Regions from separate parts of the Homo sapiens genome. Here regions 1, 2, 3, 4, 5 and 7 are each reported to be linked to region 6. The links are microRNA targets in miRTarBase. Many come from high-throughput screens and were not tested one by one. Region 6 holds a microRNA gene; each other region holds the end of a gene's coding sequence.

What was found. Region 6 holds the annotated microRNA hsa-miR-6855-5p (UUGGGGUUUGGGGUGCAGACAUUGC, at 818-842, shown strand). A microRNA usually pairs through its seed, bases 2 to 8, with sites in the 3' UTR of a target mRNA and lowers its output. Matches are read on the target gene's strand: a 7mer-m8 pairs with bases 2 to 8, a 7mer-A1 pairs with bases 2 to 7 and ends in A, and an 8mer does both.
Region 1: miRTarBase lists ZFP14 as a target of hsa-miR-6855-5p. The part of its 3' UTR that is shown has no 7-base or 8-base seed match.
Region 2: the mRNA of TNRC6A is a reported target of hsa-miR-6855-5p. Seed matches in the 3' UTR shown: 8mer at 1,450-1,457.
Region 3: miRTarBase lists SOCS5 as a target of hsa-miR-6855-5p. The part of its 3' UTR that is shown has no 7-base or 8-base seed match.
Region 4: miRTarBase lists ZRANB3 as a target of hsa-miR-6855-5p. Seed matches in the 3' UTR shown: 7mer-m8 at 1,931-1,937.
Region 5: the mRNA of LYRM7 is a reported target of hsa-miR-6855-5p. Seed matches in the 3' UTR shown: 7mer-m8 at 1,064-1,070.
Region 7: miRTarBase lists OTUD6A as a target of hsa-miR-6855-5p. Seed matches in the 3' UTR shown: 7mer-m8 at 1,067-1,073.

What each region holds. Positions count from the first base shown.
Region 1 is chr19:36,337,561-36,340,560 of GRCh38, reverse strand. ZFP14 (ZFP14 zinc finger protein) reads left to right here. Exons shown (of 5, transcript NM_020917.3): 5 at 1-3,000. The coding sequence ends at 337. Among named protein-coding and RNA genes, the nearest start is that of LINC00665, 7.3 kb to the right of the region's middle.
Region 2 is chr16:24,823,180-24,826,275 of GRCh38, reverse strand. It overlaps TNRC6A (trinucleotide repeat containing adaptor 6A), which reads right to left. Exons shown (of 25, transcript NM_014494.4): 25 at 58-2,844. The coding sequence ends at 2,469. Among named protein-coding and RNA genes, the nearest start is that of SLC5A11, 21 kb to the left of the region's middle. RefSeq lists an enhancer at 2,964-3,096.
Region 3 is chr2:46,759,648-46,762,739 of GRCh38, reverse strand. SOCS5 (suppressor of cytokine signaling 5) reads right to left here. Exons shown (of 2, transcript NM_144949.3): 2 at 1-3,092. The coding sequence ends at 2,599. Among named protein-coding and RNA genes, the nearest start is that of LINC01118, 55 kb to the left of the region's middle.
Region 4 is chr2:135,197,556-135,200,651 of GRCh38, forward strand. ZRANB3 (zinc finger RANBP2-type containing 3) reads right to left here. Exons shown (of 21, transcript NM_032143.4): 21 at 1-2,885. The coding sequence ends at 2,787. Among named protein-coding and RNA genes, the nearest start is that of SNORA40B, 62 kb to the left of the region's middle.
Region 5 is chr5:131,199,111-131,202,206 of GRCh38, reverse strand. LYRM7 (LYR motif containing 7) reads right to left here. Exons shown (of 5, transcript NM_181705.4): 5 at 1-2,676. The coding sequence ends at 2,606. Among named protein-coding and RNA genes, the nearest start is that of LYRM7, 30 kb to the right of the region's middle.
Region 6 is chr9:129,868,793-129,871,888 of GRCh38, forward strand. MIR6855 (microRNA 6855) reads left to right here and starts at 813; the gene lies at 813-879. It overlaps USP20 (ubiquitin specific peptidase 20), which reads left to right. Exons shown (of 26, transcript NM_001110303.4): 12 at 70-210; 13 at 518-633; 14 at 880-1,052; 15 at 1,661-1,755. RefSeq lists an enhancer at 1,428-1,927.
Region 7 is chrX:70,062,780-70,065,875 of GRCh38, forward strand. OTUD6A (OTU deubiquitinase 6A) reads left to right here. Exons shown (of 1, transcript NM_207320.3): 1 at 1-1,400. The coding sequence ends at 612. Among named protein-coding and RNA genes, the nearest start is that of OTUD6A, 1.9 kb to the left of the region's middle.

The DNA.
Region 1 (3,000 bases), not on the chromosome of region 6:
ACCCTATGAATGTGAAGAGTGTGGAAAGGCCTTTAGACTGCTCTCACAACTTACTCAGCATCAAAGTATTCACACTGGTGAGAAACCTTATGAATGTAAGGAATGTAGAAAACCTTTTAGACTGCTCTCACAACTTACCCAACATCAGAGTATTCACACTGGTGAGAAACCTTATGAATGTAAGGAATGTGGTAAGGCTTTTAGACTTTATTCATTTCTTACTCAACACCAGAGAATTCATACTGGTGAGAAGCCCTACAAGTGTAAGGAGTGTAAGAAGGCCTTTAGACAGCATTCACACCTTACTCAGCATCAGAAGATTCATAATGGAATTTAATAGAAGAAAGCCTTCAAATGTATATGATGTTACAGAACATCAGAAAATTCATTTTTGAGAAAATGTGTTTCATGCTCAATTCCAAGCATAATAAATTTTATATTAGAGAAAGAATATGTTGATTTAAAAGCCTTCCAACACCATTTAAACATGGTTTATCTTCAGCAAATTCCTATGAGAGAATAATGTAATGAATGTAGGAAAATCTTTAGCCTTATCTGTCATTATCTCCCTTTCTCCACTTGATTACCAGTTTGATTTATTGGACAAGATACTAAGCTTCTGTGCCTCATTTTGCTGACTTGTAAAATGGTAATAATAGTACTTATATGTATTAGTTATTTATTGCTGCGTAATAAATTACCACAGACTTAGTAGCATAAAATAACATATAATTATATCTTATAATTTGGATCAGGAGTATAGGCATGACTTAGTTGGGTCCTCTGCTTCAGGGTCTCTTGCAAGGCTACAGATTTCAGCCAGGGCTGAGGTCTCATCTGAAGGCTCAACTGGGGAAGGATCCACATCCAGACTAACATAGTTGTTACCCAATGTATTTCCGTGAGGCCTGTTGCATTGAGATTCTCAGTTTCTAGCTGGCTGTTGGCTGAACGCTGACTGCAGCTCCTGGCCACAATAGCCTCATCAACATGGCTGCTTGCTTCATCAAGGCATGCAAGCCAAAAGGGAGGACAGTCTGCTAGCAAGATGGAAGTTACCATCTTGTGTAATCTAATCATGGAAGTAACATTCCCTCACCTTCTACTGGTAGAAGTAAGTTACTAGGATAGTCCACACTCAAGAGAACGGGATGATACAAGAGTGTGAATAAGTCCTGGAGACAGGACCACTGGGGGGCCTGTTTAGAGTCAGCCTGCCACACTGTGGAATAGGATTGTTGCAAGGAGTAAGTAGTTAATACTTGGAGGAATCACAGTCATATAGCATGTATTCTGTAAATATTATCTGTAATTGTTATTATTGTCATTAGTATTAGTGAATTCACGTAAAAGGAAGATCTGTAGACATAATAAATGTAGAAATGCCTCCTGTCACCTCTCAGAAATTATTAAACATAATTTATTCTAGGTAAAATTTAGATTGTAGTGAATGTAGGAAGTTCTTCAGCACTTGAGCTGCATTAGAAATTTCATGCCAAAAATGAATTTCATGAATGTGAGGTCACTAGTAATACAGCTGTTGAAGAATTAGAGGGAAATAGGAAATGATTTTCCCATAATTCCAGAAAGCAAAAGGCTTACAATCCCTGTTGTCTGACCACAGTTTAAAATTAATTAGAAACTATCAAAAATGTGGCTTAAAAGAAATTAACCACCTAGGAATTTAATATTGTTGTGTATATTTATGTGTGTGTATAAAACTCCTGTGGGAAAGAAACAAAACATCATTCTATAAGTCAGTATACTTTTGGATGCTCAAAATGCCATATCTTCAACCAGTAGGAGTTGTTTCAAGTTGAGTTTTTGATGTGATCCCACCAATAATTTGATAGTTTACTTGATTGTGGCTGCATAATTTGGTAACCTATGAAAGATGCTAGAGCACCAATGTATAATTTTTTTGAGACAGGGTGTCACTTTGTCCCCCAGGCTGGAGTGCAGTGGTACAAGCACAGTTCACTGTACCCTGTTCCTCCTGGGCTCAAGTGATTCTTCCACCTAAATTTTTTTTTTTTTTTTAGAGAAAGGGTCTCACTATGTTGCCCAGGCTGGTCTTGAACTTCTGGGCTCAAGTGATCCTCCCTCCTTGGCCTCCAAAGGTGCTGGGGTTACAGGTATGAGCCACCACACCCAGCCCAACTCATTATTCTTGAAATCAATAAATCAGAGGAAAAATTGTCATTTAGTTTCCTTTTCCCATGTGAACCAAATTTCAGGGTCACCAGAAGTTCATCAAATTCAAATGAATTTGGCCTGGCACAGGGGTCACACCTGTAATCCCAGCACTTTGGGAGGACAAGGTGGGTGGATCACTTGAGGCCAGGAGTTTGAGACCAACCTGGTTAACATGGTGAAACCCTGTCTGTACTAAAAATACAAAATTTAGCCAGGCATGGTGGCACACACCTGTAGTCCCAGGCTGAGGTGGGAGGATCACTTGAACCCAAGAGGCAGAGTTTGCAGTGAGCTGAGATCGTGCCACTGCACTCCAGCCTGGGTGACAGAGTGAGACCCTGTCTCAAAAAAAAAATTTGTTTTTTGAATGGGTTTTTCTTTTTTGAAGAAGTCTAATAAATCTAGAAGGAATTAGAGGATTAGAAAAATCACCATTTTCTAGACCTTAATGGAATAATGGGTCCAGAAAACATGATCTTCAATGGGTACTACAACTAATAGGTGAAATATTTTATAGCGAGATTTTTATGGTGGATCTATCAAACTGGCCACCTCTGAACCCTTTGATCTGTTTTAACCTTAATAAAAATGGGTCTATCAGACAACACACTTCCTGACGTAATGCAATAGGAAGTCCACACCACCATCTACAAAGCCTTATTGCTGGAATAATGAACTGAAAGCAGACAGGGACTAGATGAACAGTATATGGTCATCCCTTGGTATCCATGGGGAATTGGTTCCAGGATCCTCCACTGATGGTAAAATCTGAGGATGCTCAAGTCCCTTGTATAAAATGGCATA
Region 2 (3,096 bases), not on the chromosome of region 6:
GGGAATAGAGCTGTATTTATTTAAGGACTAGGCAAAGATCCAAACCACTTTAAAAAATTTTAAATCAAACACTTTATTTCCACATAACAAGCGCAAAAAACTCCCAAACACTTTAACAATACAATTAACGCAGTTATGAATTATATACTACTCAAAGCCCCAAGGTCAGAAGGTCAATCAGCTTAACGCTCCAAACATTTCCAGACATGGTTTTTCAAAGCTACCTTTGGTTTTTGGAAAAACCAGTATGGAAGTCAATATACATTGAACGCACTGAATAACATTTGCTTATAGTAAGGTGTCCGACAACATTAGCTCACACCTGGCAAGTTGGAGCATGATCTGAAGTCATACACTGAAATCCATACACAGGTTTCGCCCCCGAGCTCCTGCAGGGAGAAGCGAGGGCCGTGAAGGGGGAAGAAAAGGCCAGTCCGGGTGTGGCGTTTCTCGCTTTGTAACAGAGGTATGAGAGTTTAACACTAGTACACTGTCAAGTCATTAAGCTTCATGTTCCACATGGTTTCTTGCTGAGGCTTGAGATGGGCACAAATGGTGGGGAAGATGAAGTCACAGAAGAGTTTTGAGCAACAAGATCCCAAAGATGCTCAGAGAGGGTGGGAAGGAGCAAGCTACAGTTTCCCATTGTTCTCACATTATTTCAGGGTGAAATTGTGATGAGTTCAGATAAAATGTTCAAATATTTGCTTAGATTTTTAATCGGTTGCTCTATGAGAACCCTCATACATAGCAACTTTGAAACTTTCATTATAAAAAAGAGCCTACAAATAAATTCACAAAAAGGAGACAATTAATGTTGAGCAGCCAAAAAGTCATGGTTTATTATATCTGAAGAAATTTCATAATTCAAACACAACCAAACTGTACATTTTACAATCACATTCTATTTGTAAACAGTTAAAAGCCACTGACTTCTTTTGCATCTTAGGACACAAACAGTTAGAATCAAGGCAATGATATGATGGCAAATTCTGTACTGTTAAAATTTTTACCCTTGTTTAGTCTCTCTTCTTTGACTAAGCAAGCATTATAATACCATTTGTGGGCAAAAAAAGGGGGGAGGAAAGAAAGTTTAAAATGGTGTAACTCGTTAGTTTGCAACAACATTTAAAATTTTCTTTATACAACAAACAACTCTGTAAGCCCAATACCTTGGTTACAGTATGCATAGTTACTGATTTCGGCTTTAAGGTACAACAGTTAAACATTAACACAGTCACGAGAGAGCAGAAACATATGGAGCCACTTGATGGGATTACAAAAAATTATTACCTATTGATTATTAGCAAACCATCATCACTCACTAATAAAAAGACAGCATCTGAAAGCAGAATGTCAAACTCCAGCTTTAAGCGTTTTTTTGTTTTTTCTTTTTTTTTGGCAGAGAAAATTCTTTAACAGAGCAATATGTAGTATCAGTGCTAAAAGTTGGGGTTTTTCTTTTTTTCCTCTAAGAAACTACAAGGAATTTTTTTTTTTTTTTTTAAACTGGGGAACTGGTTTTCCTGAGAACCATGCTCTTTGATTTGGGACAGGAATAGAAAAACAAAAGAACATGGCCAAATGCTGCTCCTTTTTCCCAGAGATAGAAAGCATCTTTTAAATCATCCTCCATTTTTTTTTTGTCTTTTACATTTTTTTTAAATGATGGAAGAGTAAACATTTTTTTTTCTCAAAAAACAAACAAAAAAATCTGTAAACAAGAAGGTTCAAAGTGAGAACCTCCAAAACAAAATGGAAAGCCTATTCAAAGTGCAGGGCCCGTCCTGGGTGGCAGGTGGGCTGCAAGTCACAGCTGTGGCCACAGTTTTTCAAACTGCAGAGCGAAATTCTTTAGTTTTACAACATGAAAAAACTGGTGCAACACTTTCATTAATAATCCTAAGTCAGCATCCTAACTTGATCTTTTAAACTCCACGATACCACAATAAGGTAGGCAACATCAAGGCATAGTAGAGAGCGCACGCCTCCTAAGAACACCCTTGAGTAAACATTGACACTGGGACAGCTGCCCCCCATACTGCCGATGAGACGGAGAGAACATCATTCAGTGCAAAGGGAAAAGCTCATACGTTATCAGCCCAAAAAATGGTTTTGCAAGAGAGAAAAAAAGGGGCGGGGGGGGGGGTTGGGGAGGAATAGAAGGAAAAAAAAAAAAAGAATCCAAAGGCTAAACATGATGAATAGACACAAGCGAGCTCATTCTCTACGGTTTAGCATGTATGGCGCTATTTGGGAGTGTAAATAGAGTAGATACCTTTTCACATTATAATATTGGCCTGCATGATTCAAGTATTCAAACTGATATGTTTTGGGGAAAACAAAGTGGAAAATGTGCAGAGAATAGCTGTTCCCACAGGCGGCCCCTGGCTGCAGGCGGCGAGCCCCACTTAGTGCTCCTTTCCCTCGCGTCTGAGGTCCCGGTCGGTGAGTCTGCATCTACACTGTTACATGGACTCTCCACCCCCACCCAGGTGGTCAACAGAAAGAAAAGCGTTAATGGGAGATGGGCTGCTAATTCCTCGGGGGTCGCTGCTGCTTGGGGGACCCCACAGGCTTGTGGAATAATGCGGGGTCCCCCAGAGTGAAGTGCCGTGAAGGTCTCCACAGTTAGTTCCCGACAGCCCAGCACCATTCCAGTGATTGAGATCGGTCCGGCTGGAGAATGAGTGGGAACAGTCGAGGGAGCCCAGCCGGCTCTGGCTGGACCCGAGAGACTGCCAGCCGGGAGAAGGGGTCAGAGACTGGCTTTGTGCAAAGAAACGACTGATCTCCTCTTCACTGGCAAACTCAGCAAGAATAGTAGTGTTCCCCAGTACACACCTAGAGGAGAGAGGCACCGCGGACACGTGAGGACAGCACACCAGGAGGGCTTCATTCACTCACAAGTGAGGGTGCAACTTGTCTCTGCTAGAAAAGCCACAGAAGGCACAGAGGGAGAGACTACACCACATAACCTGCGTGCCCTCCCTTCACCCGAGTGTGCACCCACAGCTCTCCAGGGCCTGGTGCCTTGCCCAGAGCGAACTTCCTCTGTCTGCCATGGGCAACGTAAGGGACTTTCTAGGGCCATCT
Region 3 (3,092 bases), not on the chromosome of region 6:
ACCGTTAACACTCAAATTTAGTTGACAGGCTACAATGGGATTCAGAAAAGGACACAGTGAATATAGACTTAGGTGCAAGTTCATGCTGGTGATTTTTCTTTTTTAAAATGTAAGCCACTAATATTTTAAGACAAAAATTTAAACCAAAAATTGCATATTAATATTATACACAAACTGAAACATGTGACTTTTAGCACAGTGTATACATGCTTACATAAACTCAAACACATTTAAAACAATTTCCATTTAACATATGAAAGTTTTGAAATACATAAAAGCATTAATACTTTCTATAAAACTACAGTTAGAACATCAATTTGCTACAAGCATATAAAAACATCAAGTGCTTTCTTGGAGTTTCAAGTTTCCTCTCTAAAACACAATCTTGCTCACATATATAGTCCTTTTCCAATAATCAGTATGAACTTTTCTTTTTCTCAAGAGGTTTATTTTCCAGGTACATTATAAGCTCAAGAAAAAAGACCCAACAATTAGGCAATATAATTATGTCATAACAACTTAATTGCACATAATGCTTTAAAGTAGGTTTGGATGAAGTTCTCAAACACTTTGGTATATGATCTTCAGGGACTTTAATTAGAAACAACAGAAATTATAAGTCCCTTCAATCCCCATTTTGCTTTAAAAGGGACAAGTCTTTGGTTAAAGTTCTACATTTTGGGCATTTATTTTTAATTAAGATGGTCCCCAAACCAATAAATGGTACTGATCTATTACAAATTCACAAGACTTCATTTAACCTGCTTCTGATGCAGTGGGAGGTTACAGATACTCATTTACTATAATATGTCATTGGATAGTTTCAATCTTTCATTTATAAGCAGAGAAATCAATAGGTTTATTACTTCTCTGTCAGTTTTCTGTTATAACCTAAACTGTACAGTAATTTGCAGTAACTACAGATACTGTTCCACAGTATATATAATTATGACTGATAAGATGTAGAGCATTAAATTTAGAGTTAGCTTATTCTGATAAGTCAATATTAGACTGTTCATTAACTCTGCATTAACTATAGAAAGGTTGTTAGTTAATGCTTATTTAAAAACCCCAAACCATTCCATTTACAAGAGAAATTGTTGCAAATGTATAAAACAGCAGATATACAAGGAGAACACCAAACATACTTTATTAGCACAAAAAAAGCAGCCATAACAAGGCACAGCAAGCAGAAACATACATTAGCAGTCAAAAGGTTAGTGTTGCATACAAATATAGCTTTCCTTTTTTGTAGCCTTGGCAATAGCCATAGGGATGTAAAATAACATTCTGTAGCAGCAGGTAAGGAAACTATGGAGCACTCACCAGTGGTACAGAGCACATTAACGAAAAGACATGAGAGTGGATTCGGCTACTTTAGTGCAAAATGTCTAGGACAGAACTGTAAATTCAGTTCAGTTACTAAGAAGCAAACACTAGAACTTGATATAACTTCCAAAAGCGCTCACTCAAGTAGTAGTACATATTATTCTAAGTGACAAAAAGGTGCTAAGTTATTTACAGATATAATGGTTGTACAGTACCTTTTAAATCTGCAATTTAGGTTTCAGATTTTCCATTAAGAATGAACTGCACTGAAATTCTATAAATTATACTTAAGCAATTCAGTTATGAGAGTTTACAAAAAAGAGATAAATTCTGCCATCCAAATTATTAATTATAGTTCAACAATAATCTCAACATCAGCAACCATTGTAGTTACTATTATCTGACTTGTTTGGGCGTCTTCTAGTCTCACGTACTTCACGGTTCACAAAATCATCCTGGGCATAGGAACAGATCCAACTTTTATGAAACAACAATTAGACTGCACATCAACTTAAAAAAAAATCACACACAAGACTACATTGCAGCAGCTATTCCAAACGCCTGTTTTAAGTTAAAGCACTCATTTAAAAAATTAATACCTAGGCCTTTCAATAAAATTCTACTACTAGCTTTGTAAGTCTGAAATTTTAAGAATGCCTATTTAGAAAATCTGGTTTACTTAACAGTACCTTTTGCAGAAGAGAAAAGGCGTCTGATTATAAACTACATCAACACGTAAGTGAACTGCACTATGCCCTTGTGGCCAGAAAATTGCATTTTTTTCTAAAAGGAAGGCAGTCTTTTATTCTTTTTGGACTTCCAAAGCTTGATTTATAGTAACTACAAACATCACGACTTTTGGAAGGTTATAGAAAAACTCTTAGAAAAAATAATTTCAAACATTAGTCACACTGTTGAAATACTCATCCAATATTAATAATTTGTTCTTCAGTAAGAAATAGAATTCTTCATAACAAATGCCCCAGAGTTGCCTCACTCAAATACCACAGCCATTAAAAACCAAACTGTTAGCGAAATAGGCAAAATGTTTTTGTAGTCTTACTGAACACCTGTAGCTCTATCCGCTATTGTTCCAATAGGCACCATGTTTATCTGAATAAGTAACAGCAGGTAGCATCTGACAGATACTAACACTAAGCTTACATACTGTATGAAAAAGCCTAACACTGCTACGTGTGCTTGCTATAGGTGTACTGTCTGATGCACATGAAAGCGGACCTAGTTAACAACCTTTGGGGACCGGAGAGTTTACTTTGCCTTGACTGGTTCTCGTTCCAACCAGCGAACTCTAACTTTTTGTTTATAATGATACTCTTTTAAAAAATCCTGTAACATTGAGGGTAGAGGGAGCCCATCAATTCCATCATACGTAGTGCACCTGCAGATTACCGCGCGACAGATATACTGCAGGCTAAAAGGGAAAGTCCTATTTAGTGATATAGTAAGCAATGGTTCAAAAAACATGCACGAACTGGGATCTTTATAATGTTCTAAAAGTCCCGTTACAGTGGAGGAGTGAAATACACACGGGTCATGGGCGTCGAAACTAAAGTTGTGATTCCACTGCTCAATTCGGGCATGCAGGGATCTGTTGTAGCGGCGGAAGCTCACAGAGAAGAGGTAGTCCTCTTGCGCAGAGTCCCTGAGCAAAAACGTGCCTTCAGGTTTCCCTTCGAGAAGGGCTTCTGCTTCATAACGGTCCATCACTCCCCAGTAACAGGGATTCCCTGTAATTTGAAGCA
Region 4 (3,096 bases), not on the chromosome of region 6:
TCCATATGAATTATTCCTCCTGGCTCTGGGGCTACTAAAAGCAACTTTACTAGTCATCAGAATGTGTCTGGGATCAATGTCACCCAGTGACGGGAACAGGAAGGCAGGCCAGCCTGATGCTGGCTGTGCAAGGTTTGAGTGTGTGAGCCCACCATGCTCCGGAAGTCCTCCCCACCCTACCCCTACCCACAGGCATATTTTCATATGGTTCCCTATCGTAAGCGAGTTCCTTCGTCACCTACCACTTCCCAGCTCTGTTCCCTGGACCCAGAGCCTTTTTTCTTTTTTGAGATGGGGCCTTGCTGTGTTACCCAGGCTGGTCATGAACCCCTGGGCTTAAGTGACCCTCCTACCTCAGCCTCCTGTGTAGCTAGGACTACAAGCAAGTGCCATCATACCTGGCCAGAGCCCTTTTTTGTTGTTGTTTTCTTAGCCTAAACTGTATCTTGCAGCTTCTCTGAGTCTTTTCAGAGCCAGGCCTATCCTTTTACACTCATTGTACCCACCTGTGTTTTCACTCCATCTCCATCTCCTGAGTGGCAGCAGCTGTCTTCTTCCTGGGGCATCTGCACTTCCTTCTGCACTCAGGATCTGCCACTTGCTCTGACACTTTCTGTGTCCCTCTGTCATAACCTCCCATTTGCAATACATAGTGGGGAGCTTCTGTTTCAGATTGTGAGGAGGAAAGAACAGTCCTCAAGATGCCCTTTCGGTCTCGGTTATTAGATCAATCTCTATCTTTATTTTCTGTCTCAGAACCCTTCATCTCAATGTGCCCCACAAGTAATGCAGACCAAATTAGGGGAAGGCAGGACACAAAGCTCTGAGACATGTCAGGAAGGGATGGGGACGGGCCAGTCAGTGTCCTGTACAGCAAATGCTCAATGCTCCTTACGGCATTTTTAATTAGTCAGAATTCTGAAACCTGGTATAGACTGAGCCTATCTTCATGGATTGTTTCACCTCAAACCATCACACAGTTCTTACATCTGAGAACTTTCTCCTTAGAATTATCACCTTAGTGTGATCTGAAGAGCAAGTTCCCCTCAAATTTGACCTACTTAGACCTCGCTTGCAAAACCCCATGCTGGAGGAAAGGCAGCGTGCCTGCTTCTTGGCTCTCAACCGTGACAAATCCTAGGTTACCTTGGAAATGAGGCAGAAAACTGCAAAGAGCACCTGACCAACTAAGCAGAAAGGAGGCCAAAGAAAGCCCAACTTCATTTATAAAATAACCAACATGACTTGATCTCATACAATGAAATAGAAACTGAGGAACAACTGTGGTTGTATAATCTTTGATTGTATAATCTTTCTAAAAACAAGTCCTTTATGTTGTAAAACACTAGCTATTAATTAACGTGGGAAAATGCTCAAACTAAAGAGGTATATGTCCTAATAGTATTTACAAACAGCTCCCTTTTGGGAATGTAATTCTTCCTCGGTCCTGTATTTTGTATAGTTCTGACTCTTTGCCCTCATGATTCTGACATATTGCAGGACTAGGCCCTGGGTTTGTTTCATCGTCACTCTTATTTTATGTCAATTACATTTTAATGTTATTATTGTATATTTAAATGCATATAACCATCTGATTATGCCTTATTATAAAGTGTTTTGTCATCATCACTCTTTTTAAAATAAGTACCAGAAACATACCTTTAATAACACAGGGTTTTAAAAACAGAAAATGAGAACCAGAAGACAAAGTGTATTTTGATAGTACGCTTAGTTTTTTTTTTTGTTTGTTTGTTTGTTTGAGACGGAGTCTCGCTCTGTCGCCCAGGCTGGAGTTCAATGGCGTGATCTCGGCTCACTGCAACCTCTGCTTCCCGGGTTCAAGCAATTCTCCTGCCTCAGCCTCCCGAGTATCTGAGATTACACGTGCACAACACCATGCCCGGCTAATTTTTTGTATTTTTAGTAGAGATGGGGTTTCACCGTATTAGCCAGGATGGTCTCGATCTATCTCCTGACCTCATGATCCACCCGCTTTGGCCTCCCAAAGTGCTGGGATTACATGCGTGAGCCACCGCGCCCAGCCAACAGTAAGCCTAGTTTTATTCATTTTTTAAAAAAAGATCTAAAAAATCAAGCTTAAGTGGCATTTTACATTTTATGTTTTCAGTTATTTAATAGTTTTAACAATTACTTTACACAGAACCCCCAAATTGTCCACAAACACCATAGGTACCTCATTTTGAAAAGGATATTTTTGATAAAGATGACTAGCTAAGAAATAAAGCAAGAAAAGCAACACCCAAAATGTGTGCCCCTAGCTCATTCTGGAGGTATTTAGTGGACAGTCTCTCTTGAATCCTAAGCAGGCTGGTCATGCTTGGCCCAGAATTCCCAAATAATGATTTGCGTCTGAAATTTCCCATAAGGTTTTGCAATGTTCCACTCATACCTATGACAGTCCAGAACAATACTAATCCAGAAGCATTTTTAGGTAATTGAGAGTACATTTTTTAAACACAATCTATGCACAATACAGTGATTAGGCATATTAGGGGTAAAGAGCTTTACAAAACATTGCTGAAACATAATTGCGAGTCTGAATCAAATCAAAAAGACCACAGAAATATTCAGTATTGTATCTTAGTTTCTGTTAAGTACTTTCAAAATGTATTTAATACTAAAAGTAATTAGTAGAAGAGAATTTGAATTCTTGATTTTTGTTCTGAAAATTTTTACTCTCGATATATTAAACAAACATGGAAAACTTCTGTATTAAAGTCTTCCACATGTAAACCATTTGTCATTCATTCATATATTTTTCTACTTTACTTCTTTACCAAAAATCGTGTGATGTCTGATCCATGCTTTGATGCTAGAGATTGTCTTCTCACCTGGCTTCTTTCCTTAGCTTGTCTGGCAGTTCTCTAAAAGTTAAAAAATATGCATGTGTACACGTTAGGAAAAAAGCACCGGCTACAAAAGCTCAAAAACTCTTTATATTGTTAGTTTGGAAAATCTACAGTCACTACACCCATTTTCCAGTGGTTGGCTATGGAAGAGTTACCAAACCACAAGGCAGAGTATCTCAGCAGCTCTGAGATCCTGAGGTCCTAGGTTCATAGGACCAACATAGCA
Region 5 (3,096 bases), not on the chromosome of region 6:
TACTTTATCTAATTAAACTATTAAATAACCAGTTAAAATCCATTTGAAATATAAATATATGATTATAAGAATAGGCAGGGTGCAGTGGCTTACACCTGTAATCCCAGCACTTTGGGAGGCTGAGGTGGGAGGATCAACTGAGCTCAGGAATTTGAGACCAGCCTGGCCAACATAATGAGACCTTGTCCTTACTAAAAATAAAAAAAATAGCTAGGTGTGGTGGCGCATACCTCTAGTCTCAGCTATTTGGGAGGCTTAGTTGGCATAACTGCTGAGCCCCAGGGGTCAAGGCTTTAGTGGACCATGACCATGCCACTGCACTCCAACCTGGGTGACACAGCAGAACTCAATCTCAAAAAATAAATAAATAAATTAGCATATGCTATATAAGAATAGAGTGCGACATCTTTCAGAATTTTGTGACAGTCAAGCCTGTTGTTGACATGTTTATATACTTCACAGGAACTTTATTTATTTATTTATTTTTGAGACGGAGTTTCACTCTTGTTGCCTAGGCTGGAGTGCAATGGTGCGATCTCGGCTCACTGCAACCTCCGTCTCCTGGGTTCAAGCAATTCTCCTGCCTCAGTCTCCCGAGTAGCTGGGATTACAGACATGTGCCACCACACCTGGCTAATTCTGTATTTTTTTTAGTAGAGACAGGGTTTCCCCATGTTGGTCAGGCTGGTCTAGAACTCCTGACCTCAGGTGATCTGCCTGCCTCGGCCTCCCAAAGTGCTGGGATTACAGGCGTGAGCCACTGCGCCCAGCCAGGAACTTTCAGGAACTTTATTGTGTAGTCTTATGGCATGAAAGTACAATATCATATCTACCTATCTGTATCAATATATCTTTTTTTTTTCCTTTTTCCTTTTTTTTTCTTTTTTTTTTTTGAGACAGAGTCTCACTCTGTCCCCCAGGCTGGAGTGCAGTGGCACAATCTCAGTTCACTGCAACCTCCACCTCCCGGGTTCAAGTGATTTTCCTGCCTCAGCCTCCCGAGTAGCTGGGACTACAGGCGCCCGCCACCATACCTGGCTAATTTTTGTGTTTTTAGTAGAGATGGGGTTTCACCACATTGGCCAGGCTGGTCTCGAACTCCTGACCTTGTGATCTGCCCGCCTCAGCCTCCCAAAGTGCGGGATTACAGGTGTGAGCCACAGCGCCCGGGCCTATATCAATATATCTTAAAATTTCTAAGCCACTATCTTTAATAAACATGTGAATTATTAATCTCATCTGCTACTAATAATGACTATAAGAAAGAAATCTGGAGTTATTTAAATTAATATGAATGAAAAATGGAACAGGGAATTCAGGTTAAAGAAAAAAGCTCAGTGATAAAATATTCAATAACACTAAAATATAGAATATATATTAAATTTAAATAACGTCAGCCAACTTTCCTCAAAATATGTCATATAGACACTAAAATAACTGTAAGTCAGCACATTTATATAGTGATTATATACTGCGATGACATTCAGCATTCTCTTAAAAGGGCAAATTTCAAATTTGAAACGACTTTCATTTTTCTCTAGGTATAATTTCTAGATACATAACAATGCTTGCATTGAGAATCTTGCAAAAATTAAAAACCCTGTATCATCATCAAATGAGAGAATTTATCAGTGAATGGGAGAAAACATACTATTCACTGAGAAAATAGAATGGCAAAGATACACAGATAAAAGAGAAACAAGAAGAATATTAAACAGTATTTTACAGTTCCTAGTGTTAGATGGTAGAATGCCAGGACCTTTTGTGATACTGCCCATCTTGTCAAGGACAGGACATGTGGAAGAAGAGAAGCCATTTAAGTTTCATTAATTAAAACGATGAGAATGTAGCCACCGATTACATTTCACACTAAAGTCTAACTTTGTCTAAATACAGCTAATTCTACTAAGGCCATATTAAATAGTTTGATCAAGGGCCACTATTTCCTCTTTAAACTAGGATTTCTTTATTCCATAGTGACCCTAGGTGACTATAATATTTTATTCATCTATTTTCAGAAAACTGATAAAAAATGTCTTCATAAGAACACAGAGATACTCTCTATCTCTAAAAAGAAACTGTACAATTATATATTAGCTACAGAAATAATCCCAGTGCTTTAGAAAACAAAGGCCACTTTCTGTAGAGAGCTGGCATACACTGTGATTTTTTTGACCAATTTAATATTTTTCAGGACTAAATATCATTTTAATCTAACAATTTAAATGTAATAATTGCATTTCACATGGCAGGAAAACTCACCAATTTGTAAAAGCACCACATTCTCAAATAGCTATGGTAAGATCAAATACTCATCAAGGTCAAAGATTGAATATATCTCCCTAAGCATTTACTTTGCTTTATGAAATTTGATTTTCAATGAAAATGAAATGTTTTCTTATCTAATTTCCTTTAGAAATACTTAATTATGTTCTTTAGTTCTCAGTAATGACCTTTTAACATGAAATTTAAATATGAAGCTATTCTGTAATTCATTCATTTTCAATATGCCAGTTCAGGGAAAATGTCTGCATTTCCAGGACTTTTGCCAGAGTTGTAGATTTTAAAGTTAAAAAGTACAAAGACTTGTTGTATTCTAGAAAACTCATTGCTTCTGAGTTGGTGCATCACAATATGGCACATTTTCTACAAGAAGGTCTTTCCTAGGGACCAGTTCTGAAAGAAAAAAAAAAAAGAGAATAATTAACATCACTAAAATTAGAATTAAATGCAAGGACACTCATTTCCCCCTAAAATTTAAAATAGTAAAATATCCAGTTTTAAGATAAATCTTCCAGGGATATTTTATTTCAGTTGATATCTAAGGTGGCATCCTTGACTCTAATTAGAATTAATAGCATTCTCATTTCAGATTATATAAAAACATATATGATCCACTTAACCCTTTATCATTAAATATAGCAAATCAAATAACTGAAGAGAATTCAGCTAAAACTTCTATTATTGGTCATTTAATTACCAATTACTGATAATGAAAACAACTGGAAATTTTGCTTATACTATCTACTATATGAAAAGCAAGACTGGTCTCCTAATTTAAAGATTCTAAATTTTAAATAACAATTGTTCTTAAAA
Region 6 (3,096 bases):
CATCTTCCTGCCCACTCGTGGAGCTGGCCTGGCTGCCCTGGCCCAGCATGGTACCCTCTCTGCCCCCAGAGCCGGACAATGATGCTCACCTACGCAGCTCCTCTCGCCCCTGCAGCCCCGTCCACCACCACGAGGGCCATGCCAAGCTGTCTAGCAGCCCCCCTCGTGCAAGCCCCGTGAGGATGGCACCGTCGTACGTGCTCAAGAAAGGTTCGGGGGGCACGGGAGGGTGGGTCAGCTTGAGGCTGGGAGTACAGATTACGCCCGTAGCTGCCTTTCTCATGGCCCCCTGTGGCGGAGGGCCGGGCTATGGGCTCCTCTCAGGTACACCCCTGAGACACCAGTGTGGGAGCCACGTTTTGCAGAGGATGACACAGAGGCATGAGATGGTGAATTGCTTACCCAGTCATGTGACTCACGGATGTCACTCCACATCCTGTCAAAGGAAGCCGCAGGGCCCGCACCTCGCCCCGGCCAGGCAGGTGGAGGCTGGGCTAGTCCTGTGCTGTGTCCCCAGCCCAGGTATTGAGTGCTGGCAGCCGGAGGCGGAAGGAGCAGCGCTACCGCAGCGTCATCTCAGACATCTTTGACGGCTCCATTCTCAGCCTTGTGCAGTGTCTCACCTGTGACCGGGTGGGTGCCCCAGGGATGGGGGGAGCTGGGCCAGGCTGCCAGTGGCCTCAGCAGCTCTTGCCCTGACTGGGTGCAGGGTGGGCTCTCCACGGGTGCTCCCTGCTTTTATCCAGGGGAGGGCCCTGCCTGCGTGGATCCCGTGTCTATGGCCTGGGGAGTAGTCCCTCTGCCCCTCACCTGCTGCTTGGGGTTTGGGGTGCAGACATTGCCAGAGGATGGGCAGCAGACTGACCTTCAACCCCACAGGTATCCACCACAGTGGAAACGTTCCAGGACTTATCACTGCCCATTCCTGGAAAGGAGGACCTGGCCAAGCTCCATTCAGCCATCTACCAGAATGTGCCGGCCAAGCCAGGCGCCTGTGGGGACAGCTATGCCGCCCAGGGCTGGCTGGCCTTCATTGTGGAGTACATCCGACGGTGCGCCCACCTTGCCACTACTGGGCGACATGGGCTGGGCCTGTCCTGGTTTTCCTGGGCGGGAGACAGTACACAGTGAAGTCCATGCATTTGGGGAACCAGGGAGGTCCTGGGAGGAGCTGGGGGCCGAAGCCTGCAGAGGAGTTGGCTTAATATGCAGGGGATTTCTTGGCTACTTTGAAGTGGCCAGGATTGGATAGTCCCTTGGAGCTGGAGGGCGATGGACAGCAGGGAGGTGACCACATGGCAGGTTGAAGGGAGGGCAGCAGCAGGACACAGGCCTGGTTGGCGGGAAGGGCAGCAGCTTTCCCAGGGCTGCCTCTCCTGCCTGAGGCCAGAGACCCGCATGACCCCAGGGAGGGGGTAGCATGATCATGGCCGCAACACAGATGAAGGAGGCCAGGCTTGCGGAGAGATGATGTCACTCGGCCCAGGACACGGACGTGTCTGGCTCCAGGCCTCTGCCCCGACCCGCCGTGCCCGGCTGCTTCTCTGGGCCTTCAGGGTCCTTCTGCGGCTCAGGCCTGACAGACCTCAGCCAGAGTCCCTTCAGCTCCTGTTCTTGCCCAGGCCCTGGCAGCACCCCTGCACTCCTTTTCTGTCTGTAGGTTTGTGGTATCCTGTACCCCCAGCTGGTTTTGGGGGCCTGTCGTCACCCTGGAAGACTGCCTTGCTGCCTTCTTTGCCGCTGATGAGTTAAAGGGTGAGGGGCCTGGCTGGCAAGGGTCGGGGAGGTGGAGGGTTGTGGGGACGGGGATGTGCAGACCCCAGCAGGCCAGCATGCAGCCCAGGGCTTGTGGGATGCACAGCCAGGCTAGACTTGGCTTCCAAGGTTGATCCCATCAGATACCCACGCCCACTGCCAGCCACGCTGGACCAGGGCCATGTGCTATCCCAACCCCATCATCTTGCAGCTCTTGAGTGTTCACTTATTTTTATTTTTACCAATTTGGTGGGCAAAAATGATGTATGTTAATTTTTCATTTCCTTGATTACTGATGAGTTTCTACATTTTTTGTTAAATATACTGGCTCTATGTATTTATTTAAACATTGCCCATTCCTGTTCTTGTTCTTTTTCTCCGTTGGCTATTTGGCATCTAAACCTTTGGGAAAACTCTCTCTTTTTTTTTTATTTCCAATTTTCAATTGCGATAAAATACACAAAATGTAAAATTTACCACCATAACCATTGTAAATGCTGTTTTTAACAGAAAGTGCACAGTCGAGTAGTGTTAAATACATGCACATGGTCACGCAGCCATCCTCCCCATTCATCTCCAGAACTTTTACATCTTGCAAACCTGAAACTCAGTATCCGTGAAACAGCTCCCTACTCCCACCTCCCAGCCCCTGGCAACCTCCACATTCAAGTCTGTGAATGTGACTACTCTAAAGGCCTCATAGAAGTGGAATTATACAGTACTTGCCATTTTGTGACTGACGGCTTTTACTGAGCATAACGTCCTTAGGGTTCATCCACGTTGCAGCGTGTGTGTCGGAATGCCCTGCCTTTTGTATGCTGGTTATTTATTGTTCCATTGTGTGGATGGCTGGGGCCTTTCTGCTTATTCGTTCATCCGTCAGTGGACACTCAGGCCGCTTCCCTGTTAGCTATTGTGAGGAATGCTGCTCTGACCATGGGTGTGCACACCTCTCTTCTTTCATCCCTTTGGGTCTATGCCTATTTTTAATTTCTCGAGGAGCCACCGTACTGGGTTCCACAGTGGCCACCCCATTTCACATTCCCACCAGTGACGCACAAGAGTTCCAGTTTCTCCACATCGTCGTCCACACTCATTTTGTTTACTTTTTTGATGGGAGTCAACCTCATGGGTATGAGGTGGTATCTCATTGTGCGTTTTTTTTGTTTTGTTTTGTTTTGTTTTTGAGACGGAGTCTCTCTCTTGACGCCCAGGCTGGAGTGCAATGGCATGATCTCGGCTTATTGCAACCTCCACCTCCTGGGTTTAAGCGATTCTCCTGCCTCAGCCTCCCGAGTAGCTGGGATTACAGGCACATGCCACCACGGCTGGCTAATTTTT
Region 7 (3,096 bases), not on the chromosome of region 6:
AACCGGCCTCCCCGCTCCTCCAAAGCCCACAGAAAGAGAGAAAGAATGGAGTCCGAGGAGAGGGAGCGCCAGGAGAGCATCTTCCAGGCTGAGATGTCGGAGCACCTGGCCGGCTTCAAGCGCGAGGAGGAGGAGAAGCTCGCCGCCATCCTGGGAGCCAGGGGTCTGGAGATGAAAGCGATCCCGGCCGACGGCCACTGCATGTACCGCGCCATCCAAGACCAGCTGGTGTTCAGCGTGTCTGTGGAGATGCTGCGCTGCCGCACCGCCAGCTACATGAAGAAGCACGTCGACGAGTTCCTGCCCTTCTTCAGCAACCCCGAGACCAGCGACTCCTTCGGCTACGACGACTTCATGATCTACTGCGACAACATCGTGCGCACCACGGCATGGGGAGGCCAGCTGGAGCTGAGGGCCCTGTCGCACGTCCTGAAGACCCCCATCGAGGTGATCCAGGCCGACTCGCCCACCTTGATCATCGGGGAGGAGTACGTCAAGAAGCCGATCATCCTGGTCTACCTGCGCTATGCCTACAGCCTCGGCGAGCACTACAACTCCGTGACACCGCTCGAGGCCGGCGCCGCCGGGGGCGTGCTCCCGCGTCTCCTGTAGGCCCCAAGGCGCTGAGCAGCCCCGGGAAACTGTCGCCGTCGCCGCATCTCCTCAGTAGGCTCAGTTTATTTTCCCCTTTTGCTTTTCTCTGTTTTTCTTTTCCTTCCTTTTAATCAAAACTACCCGCCCCCGCCCCGCCCCCGCTTTCCTAACCTTGCTGCTTTCACAGGGTGGGAAACGAAATTCGAGGGAAATTCCCCGGAAATATGAGGGAAATCTCTGCATTGCACCACCAGAGGGGCATAAATTTGAAAGTTCTAACCTCTTCTTGCCCTTAAGGGTCTTTTACCTCCCTCACCAACTAAGATTTGGTCATGTTGCGTATAACTTCACCACAAAAATGGAAATATTGGCCGGGCGCGGTGGCTCACGCCTGTAATCCCAGCACTTTGGGAGGCCGAGGCGGGCGGATCACGAGGTCAGGAGTTCGAGACCAGCCTGGCCAACATGGTGAAACCCCACCTCTACAAAAAATACAAAAATTAGCCGGGCGTGGTGGCAGGCACCTGTAGTCCCAGATACTCGGGAGGCTAAGGCAGGAGAATCGCTTGACGGGAAGCGGAGGTTGCAGTGAGCCGAGATCGTGCCTTTGCACTCCAGCGTGGAAGACAGTGAGACTCCGTCTCAAAAAAATGAAAAATTAGCCAGGCAGGTTGGCGGGGGCCTGTAATCCTAGCTACTTGGGGTGCTGAGGCAGGAGAATCAACTGAACCCGGGAGGCGGAGGCTGCAGTGGGCCGGGATCGTACTACTGCACTCCAGCATGGAAGACAGCGAGACTCCGTCTCCAAAAAAAAAAAAAGAAAAAAAGGAAATGTTAAGTTTCATGTGTTCTGGGAAAAATAAATCTAGTAGACTAGCTCGGGGAGTCTTCAGGTTTTCCTATGAATGTCTTGGATTACTTAGACAAAATTGGAGTTTATGTGATCAAAATGCCTTGTGAAGGCCTTTTGCTGAGTTTTGGGGGGAAAGATTGCCATGGTTTGCTATTTACTTAAGCTAGACTACTCAGGAGATGTCTCAAGTTATGAACAAGAGATCCGCTAGTACTTTGTTTTGTTTTCTTTTCATCAAAACTTGTGTGGTTCCTAATTAATTTTAGTTTCTCCCATGTTTGCTAATTCTAAATAACAGCATTTGTTAAAACATGTAAGGTAAATCTGTTAAATAGATAAAGTAAATTTAGATAAACTGATAGGCTAGATAAGGTTTACTCTAAGATGTGAAAGATCTGAACTTAATTTCCTTTACTAAAGGTAGGAAGAGATAGGACTTTATTCAAATAGTTGATACGTTTCATTATCTTTACAACTGGTATAAAGAAAAAAGAGACACATTGATAGGTAATTTACTTACTCTAAGGGGTGAAGATCTGAATCGAGTAAGTTTCCTTTATTCTTAGAGATATAAAGGTGTATGAATTTATTCAAGTACTTGATTGACCTTGTTATATCATCTGGTATGAAGTGTGAAAGATATGAATGTAACAACTTTCCTTATTTCTTAGAGATACAGAAATATCTAAAAAGATTCTTTAAAATATTAAAGTTTTATTCTATTTTGTTACATCAAAAGTGAACAATATACTTTTGTTATTTGAGACTTGTTAATATCCTTGAATTTTCCAAAAGAATATAAAATGAAATGATTTACAGTCAACAACTTATGAAAATTTTAATCTTTACTTTCTGTAATTCAGTGAGATTAATTTTGGAAATTCTTTCTACATTCCAAATGCTCTAAGATAAAATATATATGTTTTTGAAAGTTTTTAAACATGTAGTTTGTTCAAAAATAAAAACCATTTAAAAAATACCTGCTTCTCTGTTTTTGTGTAGCTAACTTCATATAGAGTTTATATCCCAGGATCTACTTAAGCAAAGGAATCCTGGAGGGTTAGGGAGCATAGGCCTGTTGCGGGTGGCGGGGTGGTGGTTGCTGACTGGGGACAGGGGCAAAGACTGCTGAAGGGCTCTAGAAATGGGAAAGGTGCTCTACTTCAGTGGGCTGCATAGGGTCAGGGAAGGGGGTGACAAGCTAAAAGAAGAGGCCTGGCTAGGGTAGGGGACCTTCATGGACAAAGAGGCCCAGCTGGGTAGCGGGGGCACAGGCTAGGAAAGAAGTCCTGGCTGAGGGAGGATGCCTGCAAAGGGTCCAGGCTGGAGGCTGGGGCATGGACTGGTGAAGGGTTCCTGGTAGGAGAAGGTGGCCCAGCTGGGGCAGGCTGGAGAAGGAGAGGAAGGGGGCCTGGCTTGGGAAGGGAAGCTGTTTGGGAACTGGGCTACAGTCTGGGGAAGGGGTCCTGGCAGGGGTGGAGTTGGGTGGAGAGAAGGGCAGGAAAGGGGGCTGGGTCAAGAAAGAGTCACTGTCTATACAAGGAGGAATAGGCTGACCAGGGGGCAACTCAAAGGGACAAGATGCCTCGTAGCAACGGGTCTTTGGCTATTGAATGGGGAAATGGCTCTGGCAAACTGCCTGGCCAGGG